Regions from separate parts of the Homo sapiens genome. Here regions 1, 2, 3 and 5 are each linked to region 4. Evidence: fine-mapped expression QTL. A gene starts in region 4. Each other region holds a variant in brackets. All regions are shown on one strand. Distances are from middle to middle.

Region 1 (5,104 bases), 130 kb before region 4:
CCCAATAACCAGTTGTAAGCCTACTTGCCTATACTGGGATCCCAGTTTTACAGGTGAGGAGGCTGAGGCTCAGCAAGACTTCATGACTGGCCGAGCCACAAAGAGAACCCAGGACTCTCAACTCCTGGGCCAGCGCTCTTCCCAGCCCTGGGCCATCCGTGCCGATCATCCAGGGACCTATGGGAATGTGAATTCCCTGCAGCTCTGTATTATTACTAGGTAGTTGGCCCAGTGTTCTGGAGAAAGACATACCCCAAATAGGTCACAATTTTGTATTTGGTCAGCTCTTCGCTTAGCACCTTTACCCCACCGTCAGTGATCTGGTTTACGCTGAGTCTGAAATAAAACAGCAAAAAAATTACGAGTCAGGGCAGGCACTCATTATGAAGGACCATTAATCTTACAAAGATCCAGAAGCCTTCAGGCCCTGGAGTTTTCTCAGGTATAGACGCCCCTGGAGAATGGCCACAGCAATCAGCCAAATAGCCCCTTACAAAGCCTGGCCAACGTGGGGCCGCCAGACCCATCCTGCACCAGCCCATGAGCGAGGCTGCAGCACAGCCCCTGGCTCCTCACACGACCGTGAAGGACACAGGGAGGACGTGTGAGGCCAGCCACCTCTGACATCCACCCTTTGCGTGTGACCTATGTGTCAGCCAGACCCTGTACCTGGTTCTCGTATGGTGGAGGGCATGGGTTTGGAAATGTCAGGGGCTGCTTTTAGTGGTTGTGACTGGAGGAGGGAGTGCCCTGTCATCTTGCAGGCAGGGCCAATGATGTTAGGTGTCCTGCAAAATGCTGGACAGGTCTCACAAGAACTGTTATACCCAAAATGCCAACAGCTTCCCCCCATCCAGAAACACATGGGCTAACCCTGATTTGTCACTGGAAAAGGCTGTGAGTCCCACTGTCAAAGGAGACTGCTCATGTCATTCTGTAAAGTGTCAGACAGCAAATATTTTAGGCTCTGTGGGCCATGTGGTCTCTGTCACAGCTACTCAACTGTGTAGTGTGAAGCAGCCAGTAAGTAAATAAATGGGTATGGCTGCGTTCCAATAAAACTTTACTTAGAAACACAAGCCTTGGGCCCAATTAGACCCACAAGCTGACCTTGATAACAAGTAAAAGGCTGAACAATTAAAAGCTTGATTTTTAGGCCACATCAAAATGATCAAGTCAGACACTCTGGACCCTTTCCCTCAGAGTCCCCAGCTTGGTGCTGGGAAATAGTGTGTATGTACATGGCATGGCCAGCCCAAGACAGCACAGGCTGCTAGACATTCCCAATATCTATACTTTCTTAGCAATAGATTCCCCCATCTTTTAGCTGGGCCCATCTCATTAAATTCTGCCCATACCATTAAGTTCTGAAATCTAAGCAGCAATATAATTAGTAATAGCCAAGAAGTGTTCTTAAAAGATTGAGGCATGCTCTCAATCTTTGCCCTTCCTTCTTACTGATAGCTAGAGTGTCGACTAGATGGCTGGAGTTTGAGCAGCCCTCTTGGGCCAAGATGGGAAAGCCGGGTAGTGAGGATGGCAGAACAGGAAGGCAGAAGAGAGCCTGGGCTCCGGAGGGTCATGGAGACTCCATACCAGTCCTGAACTACCTACCTCTAGACTTTTACATGAGAGAAATAAGCTTGTAACTCACCAACATTTGGGGTTTTCGCTCTCAGCTAAAACTAATCCTAACTGATGCAGCCAGAGAACTGAGTGTGCTTCCCGTGGTTACCCATATCCTCTGCTTTCCTACAAGCTGTTTTTTCTTGCACTGGTGTGAAGGAAAGCTTCACCTGGGGACAGCAGGAAGGGCAGGGCCACCACACTGGTGTGGAGTTTCCCATTGAAAAGATGGACAGAGGGGTCGGGTGCGGCGGCTCATGCCTGTAACCCCAACATTTTGGAAGGCCGAGGCGGGCGGATCACCTGAGGTCAGGATTTCAAGACCAGCCTGGCCAACATGGGGAAACCCCGTCCTACTAAAAATACAAAAAACTTAGCCGGACATGGTGGCGTGTGCCTGTAATCCCAGCTACTCAGGAGGCTGGGGCAAGAGAATCGCTTGAACCCAGGAGGCGGAGGTTGCAGTGAGCTGAGATCACGCCACTGCACTCCAGCCTGGGCAACAGAGCGGGACTCCATTTGGGGGAGAAAAAAAAAAGATGGACAGAGGGTGGCACTGAGTGTGAGACTGCCTGGGGCTACAGAGGGAGAGTCACTGGCTGAGAGTACAGAGAACAGACTCCAGGTTTTCCAATTCCCAGGCTAGGGCAGCCTTCGACCCCCTGCACCCCATGTCCCCATGCAATTATTTACACTCTGACACTGGTGTGACAGGCACTGGGAGTCAGTTCCAAATCCCTACTGCTTTT[T/C]AGAAATGCATGAGTCAAGTAATGGCAAATTTAACCCCCTGTAGAGATTTACAAGGTTTATTTTACATAGGAAATGCTAATAGAAGAAAACAGACTGGGCTCTGTTTCCCGTAAACTATGGAACAGGAAAACAACCACGAGTCAGCATTTTAACTGAGGTCTCTAGCAGTGTGAAGGGCTGCTAGCGTTGATCACAGAAAGTCACCAGTGCCAACTGGCACAAGGTCTGCTTTCTCTGCAGTAATAAAAGCTCCCATATTCCAGAAACTTTTTGAGGGCTATCTCGGAGCCTTACATTAATCTTAAAAGGAAGGTTCTTTATGCATTCTGGCACTGCTATGTCTGAGCTGTGTGACCTAAAGCAAGCTATTAACTTCTCTGTGCCTCTACTTCCTTATCTGCCAAAATAGAGACAATAACAGTACCTAAGTTACAGGGTTGTAAAGAGCATTCCATTAGGTAATATTTGTAATGCACTTCACCCATTCTCAACTAACATTGGTCCCTGTGGCCATAATTGATAGGATTATGAGCATCTTCTTTTTCCAGATGAGGGCGTGGAGGCTCTGAGAGTTAAGCACTTTGTTCAAGGGCACCCAGCTGTGGCTGATCCAGGTCCACCTGCCTCGAAGCTTTGCACCTTGACCTCTGCCCTGCTAAGAAAGAAAAGGTCTGGACATTCCAAGGGCCATGGTCATGAGTCCTGGGGGATCCTGGTCCATGATGCCATTCCCGATGCCCTCCGAGCCTGGCCCGCCCGGCCCACCTGTTGCTCCCCTTGCCTGGCAGCCTCACCTGAGAACAGTGAGGCGGCTGAAGCAGGGCTGCAGCTCCCGCACGCCGTAGTCGTTGAGATTGTTGTTGTCTAGGTCTAGGGCCAGCCGCTTGGGGAAGTGATGCAGGACGAAGGAGAGGGCGCTGCAGTCGGCCGAGCAGGCGTTGCAGTAGGTCAGCTTGAGGTAGTTGGCGCAGATGCCCCTGGCCGCCAGCTGCCCCACCTTCTGGCTCTGTGTCTCGTAGATGCAGCGCAGCATCCAGATGAACGTGGGCATGGCCTGCACCTGGTTGAAGCTTTCGACCTGAACGCGGGGCAGGCTCTTCAGGTAGCCCCGCAGGCTGGAAAACAGGTGTGCCCACAGGGCCTTGCGCTTTCTCCTCAGGGCTGCCGCGGGCACCAGATGCCGCAGGAGTTTCTGTTTGGCTTTGGACAACAGCCCGCACAGGAAGAGGTTGGTGAACTGGAAGTGATCCTTGTTCTTGAAGAGGTCTTCCCGCGCCGGACCACTGCCCTGCAGGCACTGGAACGGGAGGAAGGGAGGATAGCAGGACGTGGTCGCTGCCCCCGCAGGGGGCATCCACTCCTGGAAGAACCTGAGCAGCTCCTGAGTGCCCACCCTGTCGTCCAGCACGAGGAAGAAGGCTGTAAAGAAGGCCTGGAGGGTGAGGTGGAAAAACTCATAGGACTGCTGGTCACCCCCGGGGCCCAGCTCCGGCAAAGCCCGCAGGAAGCCCAGCTGCATGTCTCTCTCCTGCAGCCCGGAGGCCTGCACCTCCTCCTGGGTGAAGACAAAGAGGCTCTTCTCCATGCCCCGGTGGGCCACCTGCCCCAGCGAGCACAGAGTGTCCCGGCCGGCGTGGAGGGTCTCCACTGGGCTGCGTGTGTTCCGCTGCACCAGGCTGCTGGGCTGCATCCTGTTCAGATGGACCTCAGTGACCAGGAGGAAGACATCTGTCAGGGTCATCGTGCAGTCGGGCAGCTGTGGTGAGCCTTCAAAGGCAGCACGGAAGTGCTGGAAGCACCGGAAGATGATCCAGCAGAAGAGGGGCACAGAGCACAGGCTGCAGAGGTTGGGGTTGGCCTCCAGCTGGCTCAGCAGGCGGTCCTGCAGGGCCCGCTCGGGGAACATCCTCCTGGCATAGGCGCGCAGGTGGCTGGGGGAGAAGCCCCGGAGAAGCACCTTCTTCCGCAGGAACTGGCGCGGGACCTCGATGCCTGTGCGGGCTGTGAGCAGCTTGCTAGCCCCCTTGAGCAGCTTCCCACTGAGCAGGTTGGCCAGCAAGACCAGGGGGTGGGCAGGCTCCCAGGGGCAGGAGCTGTCAGGCACGCGGCTCAGGTCCAAGTCCGAGTGCAGCTCGTCCAGGCCATCGAAGGTGAAGAGGGCCACGTGGGGGAAGCGCAGCAGGAAGGCAAACACCTCCTCGGGGTCCCGCTCTGGGTAGCAGTAGTGCTTGAAGAGCAGGTCCTGCAGACACAGCCTGTCACTTTCCTTGAAGCAGCTGAACATGCGGCAGCGAAAGTGGAAGAAGAATTTGACCCCTGCGTCTAGCCGGCCCGTGGCCCAGAGGCTCTGCAGCCGCTGTAGCAGCATGGACTTGCCCACCCCAGCATCACCCAGGATGAAGATGGTCTCACCCTGCTCATTGAGGATGCCGGTGGTGTGGTCCAGGAGGCAGGCCAGGCTGTTCAGGCTGCCCAGGCTCTCATTGCTGAAGCCAACCAGCTCCATGATGGTGTCCATGTAGATCTCCTCCAGCAGCAGCTCCTCCTTCTGGGCATAGCACAGCACGAACTTGGAGTCACGGCCCAGATGGTGTCGCAGCTGCTGGGTATACCTGCTCACTGGAGGGAGGGGGTGGCAGGGCACAGCAGCAGGGTGAGGAGAGAGGCAGAAACAGCATCAAACAGGGAGGTCTCAAAGAGGAGAGGCGAGTGCATAAACAAAATTCAC
Region 2 (5,104 bases), 7.0 kb after region 4:
CTCATTAATTTTTTGATATTAGTCCCCTGAAGTCCAAAAGAGACATATTTGGTTTATTTGATATAATAAAATCATACAGGAAGTATTGTCAAGTATAAAACAATGTTTAATCTTCTTTGGATTATATTTATGCACATATGTTATTGGTATATGTTTGAGAATTGTATGAAATTCCTGTGATTCTGATATGACTTGGCATATGTTATCAGTGGTAATTATTATTATTATGTAATTGTGGTAATTATAATTATGTAAAATTGTTGTATGCCACAGAAGTAACCAAATATCTTTGTCAATTGTGTCTTTATGACTGTTCTAAGACTTTTGTTATCCACAGTTGTTTTACTTTTATCCTATTCAAAAGGTGGTTTTATAATCAGCTGTGGGACTCTGACAGGTGCTCTTGAATGCAGGCTTCTAATAACTTTGGAGACTGTGACACTAGAATAGAGGAAAAACTTCCAAGACTCCAGTGGAGAGCTGAAATGTTCATGAATATCAAGCAGAAAAGAAGTTAACTGCATGGACTGAACTAATAGAAAACTGAAATAGTCCTTTTATGACTTTTTGCCTAAAACATTGCTGACCCTTTGTTTTTCAGAGCCAAGAAAACTTTTCTTTTGAGCTATTTATAGCTTTTAACAATGGAGTAAAGTATATTTCTGTAAACAAAATTTGGAGCATATTTCTCTCTACCTGATTTCTCCAAAATTTAGAAACTAGTTGTGAGTATTCTTAACTTATGGCAATATAGTTATTTGCATACATGCAATAAGAATCTTTCCTCTGAGAAAGATTCTTTCTCAAGAATGTTCCTTTGTAACAGGGCACAATTGGAGACACTGGTTATTTTACCAAGGTTTTGACTGGAATAGGATGCTTTCAGATACAAACAGACTCCTTTAAAGAATGAAAGTTGACTTTAGAGCCAATAAAAACTCCTTGAGAAACCTGGTCTCATACCTTGTCTGCACAGTCCCGGAACAGGGTGACCTGTAGTGAGTAAAGAATGTCACTTTCTGACAGGCCCAGGAGCCCCAAGTTTTCTTGGGACCTTGAAGTGAGGAATTCACTCAACTAACGCAAGGATTTGCAGGCACAGGCCAGGCTTAATGCATTAAAGTTAAATCTGAGATTCTTAGTGGAATAAAGTTCTAGCAAAGCCAATTAAAAAAAAAGAGGAGCCTATATAGCAAATAATTATTCTTCTGACTTTATGCAAATACTCCAGCCAAGTATAATAAGACTACAACTTATTTTGCAAATGAATTTGTCCTATGACTTGTCTTTAGTGAAAATGAGACTGGAGAGAGGAAAATTATATTTCAACATAAACTATAGTACACCTGTTATTAGATTCTAGTCTTGCCTAATGTTTTTCAGTTTTTTTTATTTTCTACAATTTAGATTGAATTCAAAAATTTTTCCTGGCTACAAGTCTCCAAAATAATGTTTTCAATTTTTTTCTTCTTTCGTTTACTTCCCCCCACCCCATTTTTCCTGATTTGAAATCACTTAAAATTAAGCAGTCTTTCTTAAAGCCCTACAGACTGAAGCTAGACAATGTAAACTTCAGAAGAAAATAATAGCAACCTATTTACACACATAAACCACTTTCATACCTGCCTACTGACATGGACTTCAGAGTAATACGGCCTATATTGATTTTCCAGGATTCTTCTTCATTTTGTTTGTTTGTTGTTGTTTTTCTTCCTTCCTCCCCCTATTTTCTCTTCAAAGGACATGAGACTTCATAACCTACTAAAAATGAGCTTTCCAAATAACGTGGTACTTATCCATCTAGGAATAAACTATCCTAGCCATGAGAGATCAGACAAAGCCTGAGACCAGAGACTTGTTTTCTTCTAAAATGCTGTCTCTGAAAGATTTTAAAAAGAAAAACGGGGAGATGTGAGAGGAAAATAAATCTCAGGACTCCAAAATTACTAAGCCAAAGGGAAAAGCCAAGCTGGGAACTGTGGGGCAAACCTGCGTCCCATTGTACTCCTAAACAAGATAGCAACAAAGATAAAAAAGCTACATACCTCCCTCACAATTTGCCCACAAGAAAATTCCCTGTAGACAAAAGACAGACAGAACTCAAAGTCATCCTTTTGCTCATGTGAGATAAATGCATATCTAATTGCTTCCTTTTCCCTATTGTTTCACTAAGCCAGACTAAGGCATAAGTGACTATTCCTGTAAGTTATGTATTCAGTGAAAGGTTAATTAGAAACTCAAAAGAATGCAGTCGTACCTATGACCTGGAAACCCAGGTCATAGGTATGTATCAGTGAAAGGCTAATTAGAAACTCAAAAGAATGCAAATGTACCTGTCACCAGGGAGCCCCCTCCCTGCTTCATGTTGTCCCATCTTTCCAGACGAAACTGATGTACATCTTACATATATTGATTGATGTCTCATATCTCCCTAAAATGTATAAAACCAAGTTGTGCCCCAACCACCTTGGACACATGTTGTCACGTTGTCAAGACCTCCTGAAGCTGTCTTGGATACATGCTTAATCTTAGCAAAATTAACTCTCTAAATTGACTGAGACCTATCTCAGGTATTTTGGGTTCAGATAAAGTTTTAGATATGGACTCACTGTAAAAGCAAGGCTTGTTGTTTCTAAGAACTATACTGCGGAGATGAAAAGAGGGGGACTTTCAGGCTGGAAACTATCACATCCACATTCCTTTGCACATCAGCAGCAGAGTCTTTCTTTATACATGGACACAATCCAGGCTCCTCCCTGAGAACTGCCTTGCAGTCAGCAGGAGATGAAGGGTGTTAGGACACTTAGAACTGAGAAGAGTTGGCCGGGCACGGTGGCTCATGGCTGTAATCACAGCACTTCGGGAAGCCAAGACGGGCAGATCACTGAAGTCAGGATTTCAAGACCAGCCTGGCCAACACCCTGTCTCTATTAAAAAATATAAAAAAATTACCTGTGCATGGTGGTGTGTGCCAGTAATCCCAGCTACTCAGGAGGCAGAGGCAAGAAAATCGCTTGAACCCAGGAGGTGGAGGTTGCAGCGAGCTGAGATTGCGCCACTGTACGCCAGCCTGGCAGCCTGCGTGACAGAGCGGGACTCCGTCTCAAAAAAAAAAAAAAAGAGAAGAGTTTATGATATAATGCAAGAAGGGAGGGGCAGACCTTAAA[A/G]ACATAAACTTACTACGTTTCAACACCATACATTTGAAAGGGGCCACAGGACTGGCCCAGAAAGTACTCCATATGTATAAAAGGGCTGCAGTTTGTCCGGTGGTATAGAACATTAAGAATCTATTTGTTTGTTGAGACTTCAGCTTTCTCTTACTCCAAACATGCTGTGCTGTTTTGTCATAGAGAGCTGATGTCTTCAGTAGCAGATACCCCAAGTCTCTTGATGCCTCTTCTTTATCCCTATCAATTCTCTCTCTTTACTTCCTTCCCCTTCCAATCTAGAAGCCTATATTAGTCAGCTCAGGCTGCCATAATAAAATACCATAGACTGGGTGGCTTACGCAATAGAAACGTACTTATTCACAGTTCTAGAGACTAGAAATCCAAAATCAGAGTGCCAGCATGGTCAGGTTCTGGCATGGGCCCTCTTCCTAGCTTGCAGATGGCTGCCTTCTCACTGTATCCTCACACGACAGAAAGAGAGAGCAAACTTCCTGATGTCTTATAGGAGCACTAATCCCAGCATGAGGGCTCTATTTTGTAACTTCATCTAAACCTAATTACCCCCCAAAAGGCCCCATCTCCAACTACTGATACATTGGGGGTTAGGGCTTCAACATATATATTTTGGGGGGCACAATTAGCCCAAAATATGGCCCAAGTCTATCATTTTGGTCATTCTCTTGCTGGTGGTCTTACTCTCTTGCCCTTTTGTCCTCCTGGCGCAACCTTTTAGTCAAACCCCAGTCTGGGATTAGGCCAGTAGTCCCTTTCCATGGGGCAGCTCCCAGCTGTTGAGCACTGCCAGGGAAAAGCACAGCAGATTAAGGACCTGTGGCCACTGAAAATTAGGGTCTCCTCAGATTCATGTACTGATATGAAAGAACTATCACTTATACATGGGTCTTTAGTTCAAAAAACAGCAAGATGCATTTCAGTAGGCTTAATACAATGATTTCTGTAGAAATGTAATGTGTTATCTATGTGAAATGGACTTGTATTAGCTTAGAAATAGTACAAGTTGGCTGGGCGCGCTGGCTCACACCTGTAATCCCAGCACTTTGGGAGGCCGAGGCAGGCAGATCACCTGAGGTTGGGAGATCGAGACCAGCCTGATCAACATGGAGAAACCCCGTCTCTACTAAAAATACATGGTATTTTTGTAGGCATGGTGGCAGGTGCCTGTAATTCCAGCTACTAGTGATGCTGAGGCAGGAGAATCACTTGAACCCGGGAGGGGGAGGTTGTGGTGAGCTGAGATTGTGCCATTGCACTCCAGCCTGGGCAACAAGAGCAAAACTCCGTCTCAAAAAAAAAAAAAAAAAAAAAGCCAAAAGTTTGGTCACTCAGTGTCAAGCTGGAACACAGGAGTCCTTTCAAAGGTTCAGAATCCCATCGCTAGGACCCAATCTCCGCCAGAGCAACACAAGACCATTTCTCCCTGAGACCCTGGCACTGTCACAGTCAGTGAACACATCTCCATTTATTCTGGCATCCACAGGCCTTGGTTCTGCAGGCTTTCACCTCAGAGAAAATCTTGTCACTCTGGCCACTTCTGCTTCTCACTCTCCAAGCCCCTGAATGCCTACCCCCGACCCAACCCTACTTTAACAGATTAGAAGATAAAGTTTTCCCTTACCTATGCCCTGGGAATCAAGGAGGGAGGGAAGAGAAACAAACCTCTTCCCTCCTGATGCTTCTGTACCAGCAAAATCAAAAGAGAATTAAATCTTACAACAAATTGCACTGCTTCAGCTATTGACACTGTCCCACAGAATTCGAGGGACCTCACCTCCTCGTTTTTGGACGACAGAGGCTGAAACAAATCTTTGCTAAGGGAGGCTGGAAGTTGGGGCAAAACATTATTAATGGGTCACAGGCCAGAAAGGAGAGTCAATGAGAGAGGATTAATGAGGCCAGATCATCTGGTCCACAGG
Region 3 (5,104 bases), 57 kb before region 4:
TTGATGTAGACAGCGTTTTACTGAGAGTGTGGGAAATGCTGCTCTGTGATGATACAGTGACTTTGATTTGTTTAGGATGATCGTTCAGTTCTTGAAGAATCATATTCAATAAAATCCTAAATTATCCAGAAAATTGAAGATAAGCAATAGTGTGTTATCCAGAAAGGGAAGCATTCCAAATCTTTACCTTGTTCTGGTTTGACACTGACTGGGTTTGTGGGTGATAACCTTTCATTACAGGATTGATTTATACAAATATTGCATGGCTTTGCTGGTTAAACACCTGATAATCAGTTTGAAACTGCAGGGCTATAAAAATATCCATCAACCTCTATTAAATGCAGTGAGGGTTGCAGCCTGGCAAAAAATAAGGATCAGACTGTAAGGCTGAGAGCAAATGTGATAGAGCCCCAAATTATTGATTAAACTAGAAGAAAATTGGGTGCCTTGGCTTTCTATTTCCCATCATTCTTACTTTGTTCCTTTTTGTCTCTTTTACGATTGTCAAAGCAGTTTACGGGTTTAATAGAACAGGTTAGACAACTTCACGGAAAAGTACATAATGGGCATCAATAATAGTGGCAGGCCTTGTTAGACCAGTAGTATCTTGACACAAAATGCTTGCTCTAACTCATTAAAACATTTTAGTAAGTGTCAGTATTAATACATGTTTCTTGCTGCAAATAAAATTTATTTCCAAATTCCAATTTAGAGAAATCTGGTGGCCTAGAAAATACTATTCCCTGATGTAATGTGATTTTCCATGCTGTCATTCAATTGGGAATTTTCTCAATATTTCAAATCACTAGTGAATTGATAATAACAAATTATATTGCTGCATTTGGCCATTACAAGTCCTTTTGCCATTTTCGTTTAGTGGGTATGGTAGCTGATGGTCCTCTGAACTGCTCTAAAGAGGCAAATAACAGTAAACACTGGTCTGCTATGGAACAGGGGGTGTTTTCTGGGTTCTCAGCCAGGTGTCAAAGAGGAAGGTTTAGAGGTAATCTGAAGACCATTTTTTAGGAAGAATATCTTCCACCTGGCCTAGAAAATACAAGAAATTAAAAGGTTCTTTCAGGAAGAAACTTAAAATACTTTTTTTCTTGAATTAATGTCATCTACTTTGTAAAAAATAATCTCTTTTGTAGAGTTATTTTGCATCTAACTTTGACCACCTATCACTGTCTTGGAAACAAACACAAAAACAATTAAAATCCAGGGAAATATTGATAAATATTTATATTTGCAAGTTAGGATTAGACAGGAGTGACAAAACCAATCCCGCGGACAATAAGACCTATGAGTATAATAATTTTGGTCTGCCTGCAAAGACCTTTCCTACTTTCCATTCCTGGAAAACTCATATTTGTTCTTCAACATCAAGCAAATGTTACCTCTTCTATCAAATCATCCCTAACTTCCAGGTAGATATGGTATTCTACATGTATAGTACTTGATCGATTCCTTTACTATTGTACTAAAACAACTTTATTTGTTTACATGCCTCTTCCCCCTACTAGACTATGATGCCCAGAGAGAGCAGGAATTATTATTTATTCAATATATATTTATTGAGTGCTTACTATGTGCCAGGACATTTTGCTTCTCCTTAGGATCACAATATACATCTCTTTATTCCCAAAATTAGTACATGCCTGTCCCCTCATGGAAGAGGCACTCAATAATCAGTTGCTAAATAAACAGCTGAGTGAATGAAAGGGTGAATGAATGAATGAGCCCTATTGTATAAGATACAAAAGGCACCAATTTTACAGTGATGTTTCAGTTCCCCAATTTGCAAACAGAACTGGTGTAAAGCTACTAAGGAGAGCATGATTTGTCATTCTGCAGGGAGATGCAGTGACTCAATTCCTGGTTGACCTGTGGGGTTTACAAAAACCAGGGCTTAGTTTCTTTAAATTAACTTTAGGAGATGGCAGTCCTGGCCTGGTCCCTTTTATGTGCTGGAGCACCACCCTAAAAACTGTTGGCTGGCTACATCACAGAGAATTCCCAGGGCTCTCTTGCTAGCAGCCAGAGTGGAGAGAGGCAGGAAGGAAGGGAGAGAGAAAGAGAGAGAGAGAAGGAGAGAGAGAGAGAGAGAGAGAGAGAGAGAGAGAGAGAGAGAGAGAGAGAGAGAGAGAGAGAGAGACAGTCCAAACAGGAAGGAATAATGCAAACTTGAGTCATTTGAAAGACAGTGGATTTTCCTGTTACTGCAGTATGTTTGCTGCAGATTACATAAGACTTGTTGATTATTCTCTTACAATACTTCTGGTAGTCTATCCCTATTCATAAATAATGTGCTAGACTTGATGTAGCTGTAGCAAATCATTTTGACATCAGGGAGTACTTTTCAAGATAAGCCTGAGCCATCCTCATCCCTGAATTCACTCATTAGCAGTTTGCTCACAAAGGTGGTCTCTGGGGTAGGCTCAGAGAGGCCCCCAGCCTCTGAATTTCACGATTGAGATAAAGACTCATTATGTGGAGTCTGATCTGGTTCCATTAGCAAAATGATTTCTGTAGTTGGGTTTAGCATAAAGGTAGGTAGGCTCAATCTTATTTGTGTTCCAAGTTAATTCCCTTTCCTGTTTTCTGCCTGGCTGTTCCAATCTCTTAGCAGTCTTGCCAAGCCACCTCATTGTCAGCAGACAACATACCTCATATTTTAATGTTACAGAAACATTTATCTTTTTTCCTTTCTATCTTTTCATCTTTCACCTGTCATTCTCTGATTTCCTTCTGCCTCAGAGAAAATCTGTATATGTTACCCTTTGTAACAAATTACCCTAAAACTTAGCAGCTTAAAAGAACAAATATGTGTTATCTCATAGTTTCTGTGAGTCAGGAATTTGGAGGTTGCTTAGCTGAGTGGTTCTAGTACAGAGTCTTTCATGAGGTTGCAGACAAGATATCAGCTGGGGCTGCAGTCATCTGAAAGCTAGACTAGGAGTGGAGGCTTCACTTCCAAGATGGTGTACTCACATGGCTGTTGGCAGGAGGCCTCAGTCCCTCACTGCCCGGCACCTCCCCAGAGAGTGCTTGAGTGTTCAAGTGAAAAGTCAGCTGGCTTCCTCCAGATTGTGTGATCCAAGAGAAGAAGCATGGAGTAAGTCACATGCCTTTTA[C/A]AACTTACTCTCAAAAGCTGAACATTGTCATTTCAACCACATTCTATTATTTAGAGGTAATTCATTAAGCATCCCTTGCACTCAAGAAGAGAGGAATTAGATCCTATCTTTTGAAGGAAGGGATAGCAAAGAATCTGTGGACATCTTTTCAAACCACCACAGAGGGATTTCTCTTCCTTTTCAGGGTGAATTCTTCAACCTGTGAGCTTGATCCCATCCCTTCCCACCTGGACGTGGCTAATCAATTATGCTGTCTCTCGTAGTCTCATAATAGTAGATCCCATTTATTGAGTATCTACTTCATAATAGTAGACCCCATTTATTGAGTATCTACTATGTCCTGACCATAATGTTCCAAGAACTTTATGTAGATAAATTACTTAATACAAACAACAGTTCCATAAGGTAGGGAAATGATTAACTCACTTTTACAATTGAGGAGACCAAAGCTCAGGAGATTGTGAGCCTCCTGAGCTCACAGAGGTGAGATGTCCAACGTCAGCTAATAAGTTAAAAAGTTACACTTAAGGCCAGCCCTGACTAATTTCATATCTATGCCCCCTCCACTAATCTATTTCCACAGCGCCTCATATACTCCTTTAGTCTCTCCATCAGCTTCTTCTCCTTAGCCTTGACAAAGGCTCAAGTTGTCCTCATACAAAAATTACCTTCCTTTAAATCGTACCACATCTTGAGCTTTATCACATCTTCCCATCACCACAATTTTTTTGCAATACTGGTCTGCACACCATCCATGCATCTCTGCTGCATACAATGCCACACCTCCCATTTGTCCAACTCACAGCCATCTAGTGCTGCACTTACCAATCTACTGAAATGGATTTCTCCAAGTAAGATCACCAGTGACTTCCTAAATTTTAAGTCCGGTGCTTTCTTTTCAGCTCACATTCTGGTGTATTTGATCAATTCTAAGACATACGATTTCCAACATTTCTCAAATAGAGGTGTCTTTAAATCAATGGCACTTTGGGTTGATAAAACAAAGGTGTTTATACCCCTCTCCAGGGGTGTCTGGAGAAGAGAGAGTCGGCAAAGAGGGCAGCAAAAGAAGAGCCATACTGCATGCTCTGGGGTCCCTCTAGGTGAGGCCTGGGCGCCCCAGTTCCCTATTTGTCCTTGGCACCAGGTGCCCCCAGCTCCTTTCCTCAGGGCCCCAAGGGGAAACTGGAGCCCAGGATTGGCAGCGTGGAATAAGGGGACCCCACTGGACTCTTACCAAAGATTTGATGGTGTTATTCAGTTGACTGATTTTTATGGACCTCGGGTCCAGGACTACTGCTAGTTCTTGGCATGGGCTCTGAGGTGCATGCAGAGACGAGGAGGTGGAGGAGGAGTGGGGGAGAGGTAGAGAGAACAATCATTAAGGCTGGGGTGTGTGTGGGCTGTCTCAGCTGGCAGAGGGGCATGCCGTGTCCACTGTGGGAGGAGGTTGGAGGGCTGGCCTGCAGGGTCACTGCACCTCTCCCCAGAGCCTCTTACCTCCAGATCCTTCAGGGTAGCAGATGATGTAGGGCCCTCCCCGTGGATACCTGTTGCTGACTACCAGAGATGAGAATGCACATGGAGATGTTCTGTCCCCCTCAGTGTCTAAGCCCTCTGACTTCCTTTCTTCCCCATCAACTGGCTACATTTTCTTTTCTGCCTATCTTGGACGCTTTGTCCCATAACTCCTTTGTGCCGACTTCTCTCATGGTTCTTATCCCCCCACCATCCCACCCTGAGGCCCTTTCAGTGACTCTTGATGGCAAGTGGCTGTTCTCATTGTCCTGGCTTCCCCTTGAGACTGGGGATGAGGAAAATCAAAGAGCAATGACCATATCCTGGGTGTCCTGGGTGTTTACAGCAGGCCATGTACTAGGGATTAACATAAAAACAACAATAAAAAAATCTCATTTAAACTTCACAAATGGAAGTCAAACAATACCACCTCTATTATGCAGATGTAATAA
Region 4 (5,104 bases):
CAAGACTGTGCCATTGCACTCCAGCCTGGGTGACAAGAGCAAAACTCCATCTCAAAAAAAAATGGCCTTCTGTATAACATTTCATATGAGCTCATATTAATTTTTGCTCTAGGAGAATTAAGGGTTCTTAAGAGGGCTACAGGCAATAAGCTGACCCAAATTTCTGATGTTTTCTAACATAGCTTAGCTAACACCCATTTTAAGAGCTTGATTAGCCCTTTCTACTTTCCCATGTAAATAATTTTTGATTCTGAGAGCCTTAGCAGCCCCTTGAGTTCTAAAAGATGGGTCTTTATCACTTTAGAGGCTTTGGGGTAACCCAAACTAGGGGATTTATTTCCTTTAAAAGAAGCTTAGCAACTTCATGAGCCTTCTTTGTTCTCATAGAGCAAGCTTCAACCCAGCCAGTAAAAGTATCTATTACTACTACCAAAAACTTGTATACTTTGCACACTGGCATATGGGTGAAGTCTAATTGCCAGTCTTCCCCTTTAACTTTAGCCAATATGTTCACACACAGAATCTCTTTTACAATTAATTTTTCATAAGCCTTCCACAACTTGTTCAAACCTTTTAGATTATTCCTATCTCACTTAAAACCATCCTTTCACCCTCTAAACTTAGGCAAGAAATCCACATTCCCATGCTTTTTACCAAAGGTACATTATCCTTTTCTTACATGAATTCTTTTCATAACTTACCCAGACCATCTACAAAATGCTTGGACTTTCTGAGTTTTCCTAAACATCTTTCTTTTTAAACAACCAGTCATTTTACGTTAGGACAAGAATTTATCGTACAAGATCTTTTCTCCTACAAAGCCACCATCTCTACAATCTTCCCTCACAAAAACATATCTTCATATATATAACTTTCTTCACATCTCTCCCCTACTTACTGGTTCCTTACTACCTTGTTTCATAAATAACTCTTTTTTTTAAAGTCCATAATTTGAATTAACTTTCAGATAACCTCCAAACTACACAAAATAATTCTTTCTCACCAATAACACATTTTTTGGCATATTTTGTATACAGAATTATATATTAACTATAATTCATATCCTTATGTATTAGTCTGTTTTCATGCTGCTGATAAAGACATACTTAAGACTGGGCAATTTACAAAAGAAAGAGGTTTATTGGACTTACATTTCCACATGCTGGGAAGGCCTCACAATCATGGTGGAAGGCAAGGAAGAGCAAATCACATCTTATGTGGATGGCAGCAGGCAAAAGGAGAGCTTGTGCAGGGCAACTCCCATTTTCAAAACCATCAGATCTCATGAGACCCATTCGCTATCATGAGAACAGCATAATTCAATCATCTCTCACCCACTGGATCCCTCCCCACAACACACGGTAATTATGGGAGTTATAAGAAGAGATTTGGGTGGGGATGCAAAGCCAAACCATATCATCTTAGTAACCTTAAATTTTAGTGAAACCTTAGGAAGCAAAAAATCCTAAACTATCAGATATTAGCATTTTATAGATGAGAATAATTCCACAATTTTTGGAAACATATTCCTCCCTATCATAACCCTTTCTTAATTGGAAATGACTGAGATATCCAATGGGCATCAAAAATACTTTTAAGATTTTAAATTACACAAAATTTACCTAATCATTCATCCCATTTACATGTACTTAAGTCTTTCATTTTTAACAGTTTATCTAGATTACTTCTGAAAACTGAGATATTAGACACCATCATTTAAAGTTAGTTATTTATTTGTTAACCATTTTTAATAGCCAATGAACATTATGTGTTCACCTAAATAAGAACCTCACAGTTAAATACATAGGTGTTTTTGCCAATAACCCAGAAGATTTAGCTAACAATATTAAATTAGTCTCATTTGTCAAAGAAGCCACATAAACTAAGGCCATTTTGTTTTGGCTGGGTTAATAGCTTTATAATCTTCTATGCCAAATGCTGACACTTCAACATTTCTAGCAAAGACAAATATAAAACCCAGACAAAAATGTATGCTGACAATTCTGAAGATATTTCTATTTTCATTTTACCAATAATTTTAAAGCCAGCTATTTAATGAAGATTTACTTAAGTCACATGAACTTGAAAATTGCTTGGACTTATTTATTTAATTTATGAGTGCTTTTTTATTTATAAGCTGATTTGGTTGACACAACATATAACAATAAGTGTACATACAAATAAACACATCTAGACATGTATACACACACACAAACGAAGATCCAATAGCTTTTACCTTGGAACTCTAGCCATGAGATATCAATACAAGCTCACAGGTTTTACATGGTTACACTTTGTTTGCTCCAATAGGTAATCCAGTGAAGGCTGTGAACCAAACATTTTTAAAGCAGTTCCGGTGGCAGTTTGATTTTTAAAGGCCAAACCTCCTCAGACTCCAAAGACACTGGAGCCAAATAGCACCAAAGGAGAGCACCATATGCTGACTAGGCCTGACCCTTCTTAGGACAGCAGCACCAAAGCCTGGATACATGCAACGTCATCCTGCTTTCCCATTCAACAGCAAACTCCAGATTCCAAACAATACTGGGGCCAAGTATTATTGCAAAAGAATATCAAATGTTTCCTCCTTAGATTATCAGGGTCAAATTCATTTCAATGGTTGAGGATGCAGCCAAGTGGGAAGTCAGGTGGAATAAATGGAGTGTTTCCTGTAGTGGTCTGCAAGAGAGAGACAATTCTAAGGAGGCCTTAGTACTAGACCTGAGAACCTTTGCCTAGGGCATCCCCTTTGGAGAGGCTGAGGTCTGGAGTTGGATCCCCTAGGCATCCCCCTTTGAGGTCCAGTCTAAAAGTGTCAGACATCTCTGACCTTAGGTGGGCACCAGTGTTGCTTTGTATGTTTTCCCTCCAGAGGCAATGGCCTAATATGAGCTTTTCTCTTGTCCCTGGATGAAGGTCTCAGCTTCTAGCTTCCTACCAATTTAGATAGGCCATATCTTCCTGCATTCCTTGCAAGACTAAGGAGGTTCCCGAACACTGCAGAGTTAACGGTACCAAGGCTAGTGGGATATTCCCCATGAAGAAATGGTGCAGAGGTTATATAAAAGATTGGGTTTATATTGGGTATATAAAAGATATATAGAATTTCTACGGGGTTCAGGGCAAGCAAACTGATGCCAAAGCAATGACCACCAAGCTCCCTTAAGTGGAGGTCCAAGATGTAGAATGTGTTCTAAAGCTTGTGGGTCCCAAAGGTCCTCAGCCAGTCAATAGATTCAGTAGGAGAAGGGAGGTCAAAATATCTAAGAGATATTATCTTTTGTCCTTACAGGCCAACTTTATGGGAGAATTTAGCTTAAGAAAGAGGGTTTAAGTCGCCTGAAATGTGTGTGAGTTCACCCTGGACGAGCTTCTGCTGCCAATTGCATCACAGGTAGGGATCAGGGACTATAACTCAAAAAGATACAAAAGAGTCCTTCCGCCTTCTGGGCAGGAGAGCTATCCCAGGTTCACTCCTTGGCCTTCAGGTAACAGTAGAGAGTGGTCCCGGCCAGTTTCCCTCAATTACCAAGAAGCTACTAGGAAACGGCCACTGAAAGACTGAAAAAAGGAAAAGGACTCAGGTCCCTCACCTGAATTGGGCAGTGGTGGTCAGGCACTTTCACACAGAAACCTTTCAGTTTCACCAGAGAGTGGCCCTGTTAGAAACCTGTGGTTGCCTCTGTGCTTAGGCACTGTCCACCGAGGGTTCCAAGCTGGAAAGGGAAAAAGAGACAGAGAAAAGAGTTCCCCTGTAAGGAGCAGAGAGGAAAAGGGAAATCAAGAGAAGAAAAATAAATCCCAAACTTTGGGCTTACCTCCTGGCTGGCTCGCCAATATATGTTACTGGTGGAGGGTCTTGACTATGAGTCATCCAGGTTCTTGGCATTTTGAACAAGGAACTGGACAAAATGCACAAACCAAGCAATGAAAGAATGAAGCAAAGAACGCACAGATTTATTTAAATGAAAGTACACTCCACAGACTGGGATTGGGCTCCAGCAAGGAGCTCAAGAGGCCGGTTACAGAATTTCCTGGAGTTTAAATACCCTCTAGAAGTTTTCCATTGGTTACTTGGTTATACCCTATGTAAGTGAAGGAGTGGCCCACGACAAGTCTGATTGGTTGTGGGAGGGGACCAATCAGAGGTACTTTCCATTTTTATCTGTGAGGCAGTGCAAAGACAGTAGCCTCTGATACTTTTGTTACTTGGGTGTGGAGAGGTGGGGTTTTCCTTGTGATTCAGTTCTAGGAAGTCAGGGCAAATTGGCCTTAGATTCCCTGCCTCCAGACCCTATTCTTCTACCTCACAAGCATGTCATGAATGGTCTGGAGTAAATCATAAGCGGATTTATGGAAAAAAAAGCTTTTAGATAATCAAGTTGTCTATAATTAAAGGGAAATTATTTTTAATGGTCTTTCTAGGAATTGGGTTTTGGTATTTTCTAAAAACCATTTATATACTGAAGAATCTTAGCACTTTGGGAGGCCAAGGCAGGTGGCTCACATGGTCACAGGTTCAAGACCAGCCTGGCCAAGATGGTGAAACCCCGTCTCTACTAAAAATACAAAAATTAGCCAGGCGTGGTGGCAGACGCCTGTAATCCCAGCTACTCGGGAGGCTGAGGCAGAGAGTTGCTTGAACCCAGGAGGCGGAGTTTGCAGTGAGCTGAGATTGTACCACTGCACTCCAGCTTGGGTGACAGAGTGAGACTCTGTCACACACAAAAAAAAAAAAAAAAAATTGGTTAGAACAATGGAATTTTCTTGAAGTATTGCTTCATTCTTAATAAAATTAAAATTGATAAAAGACATTATAATTTTTTAAGTAAATTTCAACTTGTATTGCATCTCACTGTTTTCAGCTTTTTCTCCCCTTTTAAAGTGCCTGAAATAATCACTCTATTCTTCAACTCATTTTCAGCTTCTGTAAGCTTCTTTTTTTTCGGGTTCTGTTGTGGTCTGATGCTAAAAATGTTTTCTCTTAAAGGTCTAAAGGAAATGTTTCCTTCCAACATAATATTCTGTGCTTTTGGCTTTAAATTGTTCTATGAAATAAAAAATTTTCACTTACGACCCAGGAAACACTCTTCCTATGTCTAAC
Region 5 (5,104 bases), 79 kb after region 4:
GCTCCATGTCCTCATCCACCCCAGCCCAGGTACGAGTGCGCTTCTTCCCTGCGTCAGCTGCACTGGGGCTTTGGGCCTCATGATTGGCTTGCACATGCCAAGCTTCACGGCCGCCTGACTCCCCAGAGCCTGCTCTTGGTGTGTGGGCTTTTCTGTGGCAGGTAGCGGGGGAATGTGCTGGTCTCTCTTCTGCTCCCTGAGTCCATACAGACCTGATTGCTTGGCACACATCTCTTTCTGGAAGCTTCCTTCTGTCACCACCTCTGCTCTGGCTTCTCTCTTCCATGAGGCCCTGCGGCCTGGGCTTCCTTGCTCACCCAGCTCTGAGTGCACATGTGGGGTGCTGGCATGTTATTTCGGGGCTGCATAGTTGACCTTCTAAACTGGCTCCAGCCCCTGTGAGAAGGATTCCTGTTCCCCTAAGGCCGGGTGGTATCTCAAGGCTTCCTCTCCCTGGCACTCCAGCAAGGCCGGGCAGCACCAATGGAGCTGCCCTGGAGTGGGGTCTGAGGACCTGGATATCCCAGGCCACCCCGAGGGCCCAGCTTCATACCTCTCCATTGAAGAAGCAGTAGAAGACAGACACGAAGAAACCCTGGAAAGGAGGGAAAGGAGGGAGTGGTCAGTGACCTACCTGCGGAGCTGTTCTGCCTGGTGGGGTGGCACTGGGGACAAGATGGTGGGGGGGGGACAATTTGACCCAGGAACCCCTGGAGTCAGAGCTGGGTGGGGTCCTAGCCTCAGGGTGCAGATATTCCACGGTCCACTCTGAGTGAGCAGTGGTCACAGGCCTGGAGCCAGGCAGACTCCGGTCTCCTCAATATTGTGTGACCTGTCCCAGGGCATTTGGTTGGGCTGCCTGCATCCTCAGAACAGGTGCTGGGACAGTAGGTGCGGGCTGGTAGGATGAAGACCCAGGCTGGGATGGGGATAACTGGCCAGGCTCAGGCTGAGCATGTACGGGCTTCTAACTCTGTGGATGTAACTGAGCCATGGGTGTGCCAGTCCCACGGGACCCCCTTAGTGAGGGCATGGCTGCCAGAGCAGCCTCAGGAAAGCTCACTGTGGGGCCCCCATCTGGTCACAGGCCCCACCTGGAACGACTGCAGGAAGGAGTTGAAATAGATGAACATGATCTGTGACAGGTCGTCCTCCCCGGGATTGACGAAGAAGAGCATGTAGGTGATGCCCAGGAGGGGCAGGAGCACCAGGGTGGCCTTCACTGCCTTCCTGGGGGCGAGAGGTGGACACAGGTCTGAGCCCATGCGGCAGGCAGGGCCTCACCCAGTGGGCGGCGGGAGACAGTGGTGGTGTTTCTTCCGGGAGCTTGAGCGAGCTCCCTGGGTGAGGCCTGGGGCAGAGGGCTCTGCCAGGAAGCAGGGGGACGGCCCGATGACCTCCTCCTGTCCCCATTGTGGGGTCAAGGGACCCCCTCACATACCTGTACTGGATTGTCTCGGATGTGGTGGACGCGCGTAACTTTGTCATTAGGATCCTGACGATGTTGAACAGAAATACGAAATTGATCTGGAGGGAGGGCGGGCATGGGAAAGAGGGAAAAGGAAGGAGCACGTGTTTGAGATGAGCCGAGAGGCAGCCCCCTTCCCCGCAGACCCCTGGAAACCGATGTCCCACGCACACACCTATCCTACCTGTCCCCCTAGCACCTGCCAGCATCCCAAGGCCTGTGCTCCTCCCTCGCCAGGATGGGGAGACAGCCCCATTTTCCAGGGCCTGTGTCTCCAGCCCAGGACTGAGGAGGAAAGGTGGCAGCCTCTGTGGGTCGTGACCGAGAGCACGGGGCATGCCCTCTGAGGCTGAGAAAGCCCCCAACCCTCTCCCCAGTATAGGGACCCTATGGGAGCCCCCTTCCCCTCACTGCCACGGGGTCCCTACTTGTTGACTGCGGGGCTCTCTGAGTCCCTTGCACTGTCACTGGCTCTAGGTCGGCCTGAGGTCCTTCTGACTGAGGACAGCACTGCCATGGTGGGGCGGACAAGGCCAGATGGAGGGATTAAGAACTCAGTTGCCGAATGAGTGATTAATCTGCCAGCATCCCACCCCTGTGCCCAGGAACTCCAGAGCCTTCGTAGGCACCCTAGACAGGGAAGATGGATGGGCTGTGGGGCTGGCTCTGAGGCCCCAGGAAGGGCCTCATTTATCTTCATTCTGAGTTTTCCCTCAGCACCAGAGCCTCCCCACCCAGCACCTGGCCCTGGAACTGGCCTGTGTGGCTCCCCAGCTGCTCCCTGCTGGGTGTGGGTCCCCATGGGCCTGCGAGTGTCTGTTCATCTGTATTGGCTGTGACTATGACTGTGTTGTCCCCTGGGAGCTGCAGTGTGGGTCTGTGGGTCTATCCTTTAAGCACTTGTGCAAGTGTGTTTGCCTCACAGAGCGTGTGCATGTGTGAGCATGGATCTGGGGCCCGGGCACATCTGCGTTTCTCTTCACCTGCCTCCGAGCATAGGCAGGCAGGCAGGCAAGGGAGTGTGTGTCGGCCTGACACAGTGGGGCTGTTTCCTGACAAAGTGCTCGTGGGCCAGAGGGAGACACATGTTAGCCCAGGGGTGTCTGCTGGCTCGTGTGCACACACCCACTCACACACACACACACACACACACACACCTCTGACACTCTGTCAAGAAAATCCATTGCTTCTTAAGCTTGGGCTGGGCCCTTCTAACCCTCCCAAGTTCTGAATCCTGGCTGGGAGAGGAGGGACACAGGATACAGACAGATATCCTGAGACTGTCAACCTGTAGCCTCTGGATGCTCCCCACAAGCTTTCGGGTAGCCCTAGGGGCAGGGAGAGCTCACACCCCACCTCAGCCACTGTCTACTGCTCTCTTACCACATAGTGGTATGGCCTGGGGGTCCCAGGGAGGGCTGGGGATGGAAAGCCTTCAGCGGGGCTGCCATGACCTGATACCCCCAGCTTTCTCCTAGGGCTCACCTAATTTCCAGCTCCTGGGTCTCTGGCATATTCCCCTGGATCATGGGACACAAGTCACCTTAACATATAAGTGAATCCTAATTTTCTCATACAAGTAATACAAAGTATTTGACCTTTTCTGATTCTTCCGGACTTCCCTGAGAGTAGAAACT[G/A]TTGGAATCAAAATATATTCTCATTTCTGCCACATTTTCTTGAATTCAATATTAATCTTCCAACATCCATCAACCCACTAATCAATTCAATTATCCACCCACTTTATTCATCTATCCATCTATCCACTTACCTACCAACCAGTTCATTCATTTACCCACCTACTTTTATCCATCCGTCCATCCATCCATCCATCCAGCCATTCATCCATTCATCCTTCCTTCCTTCCATCCATCCATCCATCTACCCAACAACCAATTCATTCAATTATCCACCTACTGTTTTATCTATCCATCCACGTACCCATCCATCTACCCATCCATCTACCTACCCAATAACCAATCCATTCAGTTATCCACCTACTCTTTTATCTGCCCATCCACTGGCCCATCCGTCTATCCATTCATCTACCTAGCAACCAAGGCCTTGTCTCCATCCTTACACTTGGCAGACATTTAGTTATGTGGCCCCACTCATCTCAGCTTGGGTCTATGTAACCTGAAAATCCTTCTTTCCTTTGAGCCTGTTTCCCAGCCTCCCCCTTCACACCACCACAGGTACCTTCCTCTCTCTCCAGGGAGCCTTCTGGTCACCCTGCCCACACTGAGCTCTCCGGCTTTCCATTCTTGGACTCTACCTCCCTGCTAAAAACACACTCCAGTTCTTTAGTAAGAACTGTCTATTGTACCCTGCCCTCGTTCAGCCTGTTTCTGGTTTTATTTAATTGTTCATTCATTCAATGAATCAATGGACCATGTGTCAGGCTCTGAGCCAGGCATCAGCGATGGCGAAGTGGACAGGCAGTCACAGCCCCTGCTTGCAGAGGGCTTGTGGCCTAGCTGGGGGCCTGGAGGGGTTGGGGGTGGGGGAGATGACATCTTTCCTAAGGTGTCAAAAAGACCTGGAGAAATGGCAGATGGGCTAAGAACTGAAGATGAGGCCCCCCTCCCAAATGAACTGAAGCACCAAGTCCTAGTCTCATGGCTCAAATTTTGACTGTTCCAATTTGCAGTTGTGTGGCCTTGGGTAAGTTGCTTAACCTCATGAGCTCCTGCTTCCTTGTCTGCCCCCGAGGGGCCTAACCACAGAGCTTGCCTTAGAAGATCAGCATGGGCTGAAATAGTCACAGAGACCACTAAGACCTGTGTCTGGCCTAGTGACTGCCAATCCTTTCCCATGACACCAACAATGACAACACCAGCAAGAAGTCAGGCTTCCTGCAAATTCAACCACCTGATTCACTTCTCAGAACCAGAAATAAGTGAGTGTCTCTTAGCAGCAGAAATGCAGCTGTGAGCTGCTGGGGAGTGTAGGGATGGCAGGAACACCAAACACGTGTCCAACCTCGAGGACAACAGGCAGATGGTGGGGACAAAGCAGGAGACCTGCCTTTGAGCCTCTGCTCTGCTAGCTATTAGTGGTGACCTTGGGCAAGCCACTTCATCTCTCTCAGCTTCTTCCTCTGTAAAATGGAGAGCATAACCCTACTTCTTTTAGGACTTGAGCATGCAAGGGTTGGAAATAATGTAGATAGAGCTTCTGGAAGGGCTCAGCTTGGAATGTGGAAGCCCCTGTTGGTGCAAAGAGCTGGGCCCAAAGGAAAGAAGGAAAGGGCTCGTGAGCACAGACGCAGGGGTGGAGCCAGAGAATGGGTCTGGAAGAGGAAGCATGGAGCTGGGTCTTGACACTGAGCTCTTGCGTTCCTCGCCTCCCTTTCTCTTGGCATTTCCTCACCACCCTTCCAACATCTTTACAGTTGGGGCTTACTCTTTGCCACCATTGGTCCCCCATCCAGGCCAGCCTTCCTTGGCTCAGTTCCAGGCTCATCAAAAGCCTTATTCCTCCAGGATGGCCCTTGGCAGCTGGTTGGGAGGGAAAGGATCTCATGGGGTTTCCATACACACTGAGGGGTGAGTGACTCACTGCAGCTGGGAGTCCAAGGACAATCCTACTAGCTGCTGACAAAACCTGGCTTCTGCCTCTGAAGCGAACCAAGCCCTG

The links. PIP is the estimated chance that this variant, and not a neighbour inherited with it, causes the effect. A credible set is the group of variants that fine-mapping cannot tell apart.
Region 1: its variant is the best candidate, but not a certain one, in a credible set for the expression of GARS1-DT in whole blood (INTERVAL, PIP 0.53).
Region 2: its variant is the best candidate, but not a certain one, in a credible set for the expression of GARS1-DT in prefrontal cortex (BrainSeq, PIP 0.50).
Region 3: its variant is the best candidate, but not a certain one, in a credible set for the expression of GARS1-DT in whole blood (TOPMed, PIP 0.52).
Region 5: its variant is the best candidate, but not a certain one, in a credible set for the expression of GARS1-DT in whole blood (TOPMed, PIP 0.56).

Annotation. Positions count from the first base shown.
Region 1 is chr7:30,448,046-30,453,149 of GRCh38, forward strand. It overlaps NOD1 (nucleotide binding oligomerization domain containing 1), which reads right to left. Exons shown (of 14, transcript NM_006092.4): 6 at 3,171-4,995; 7 at 253-336. Among named protein-coding and RNA genes, the nearest start is that of NOD1, 28 kb to the right of the region's middle. RefSeq lists an enhancer at 1,481-1,981. The variant T/C (reference allele first, on the strand shown) is at 2,376.
Region 2 is chr7:30,582,378-30,587,481 of GRCh38, forward strand. No RefSeq gene overlaps it. Among named protein-coding and RNA genes, the nearest start is that of GARS1-DT, 7.2 kb to the left of the region's middle. The variant A/G (reference allele first, on the strand shown) is at 3,168.
Region 3 is chr7:30,518,773-30,523,876 of GRCh38, forward strand. It overlaps the pseudogene LOC100287825. Among named protein-coding and RNA genes, the nearest start is that of GGCT, 16 kb to the left of the region's middle. The variant C/A (reference allele first, on the strand shown) is at 3,135.
Region 4 is chr7:30,575,413-30,580,516 of GRCh38, forward strand. GARS1-DT (GARS1 divergent transcript) reads right to left here and starts at 2,367. Exons shown (of 7, transcript NR_038889.1): 1 at 2,237-2,367; 2 at 1,152-1,298.
Region 5 is chr7:30,654,486-30,659,589 of GRCh38, forward strand. It overlaps CRHR2 (corticotropin releasing hormone receptor 2), which reads right to left. Exons shown (of 12, transcript NM_001883.5): 9 at 1,442-1,527; 10 at 1,095-1,230; 11 at 554-595. LOC124901609 (a long non-coding RNA gene) reads left to right here. Exons shown (of 2, transcript XR_007060276.1): 2 at 1-5,104. Among named protein-coding and RNA genes, the nearest start is that of CRHR2, 25 kb to the right of the region's middle. RefSeq lists an enhancer at 244-1,443. The variant G/A (reference allele first, on the strand shown) is at 3,106.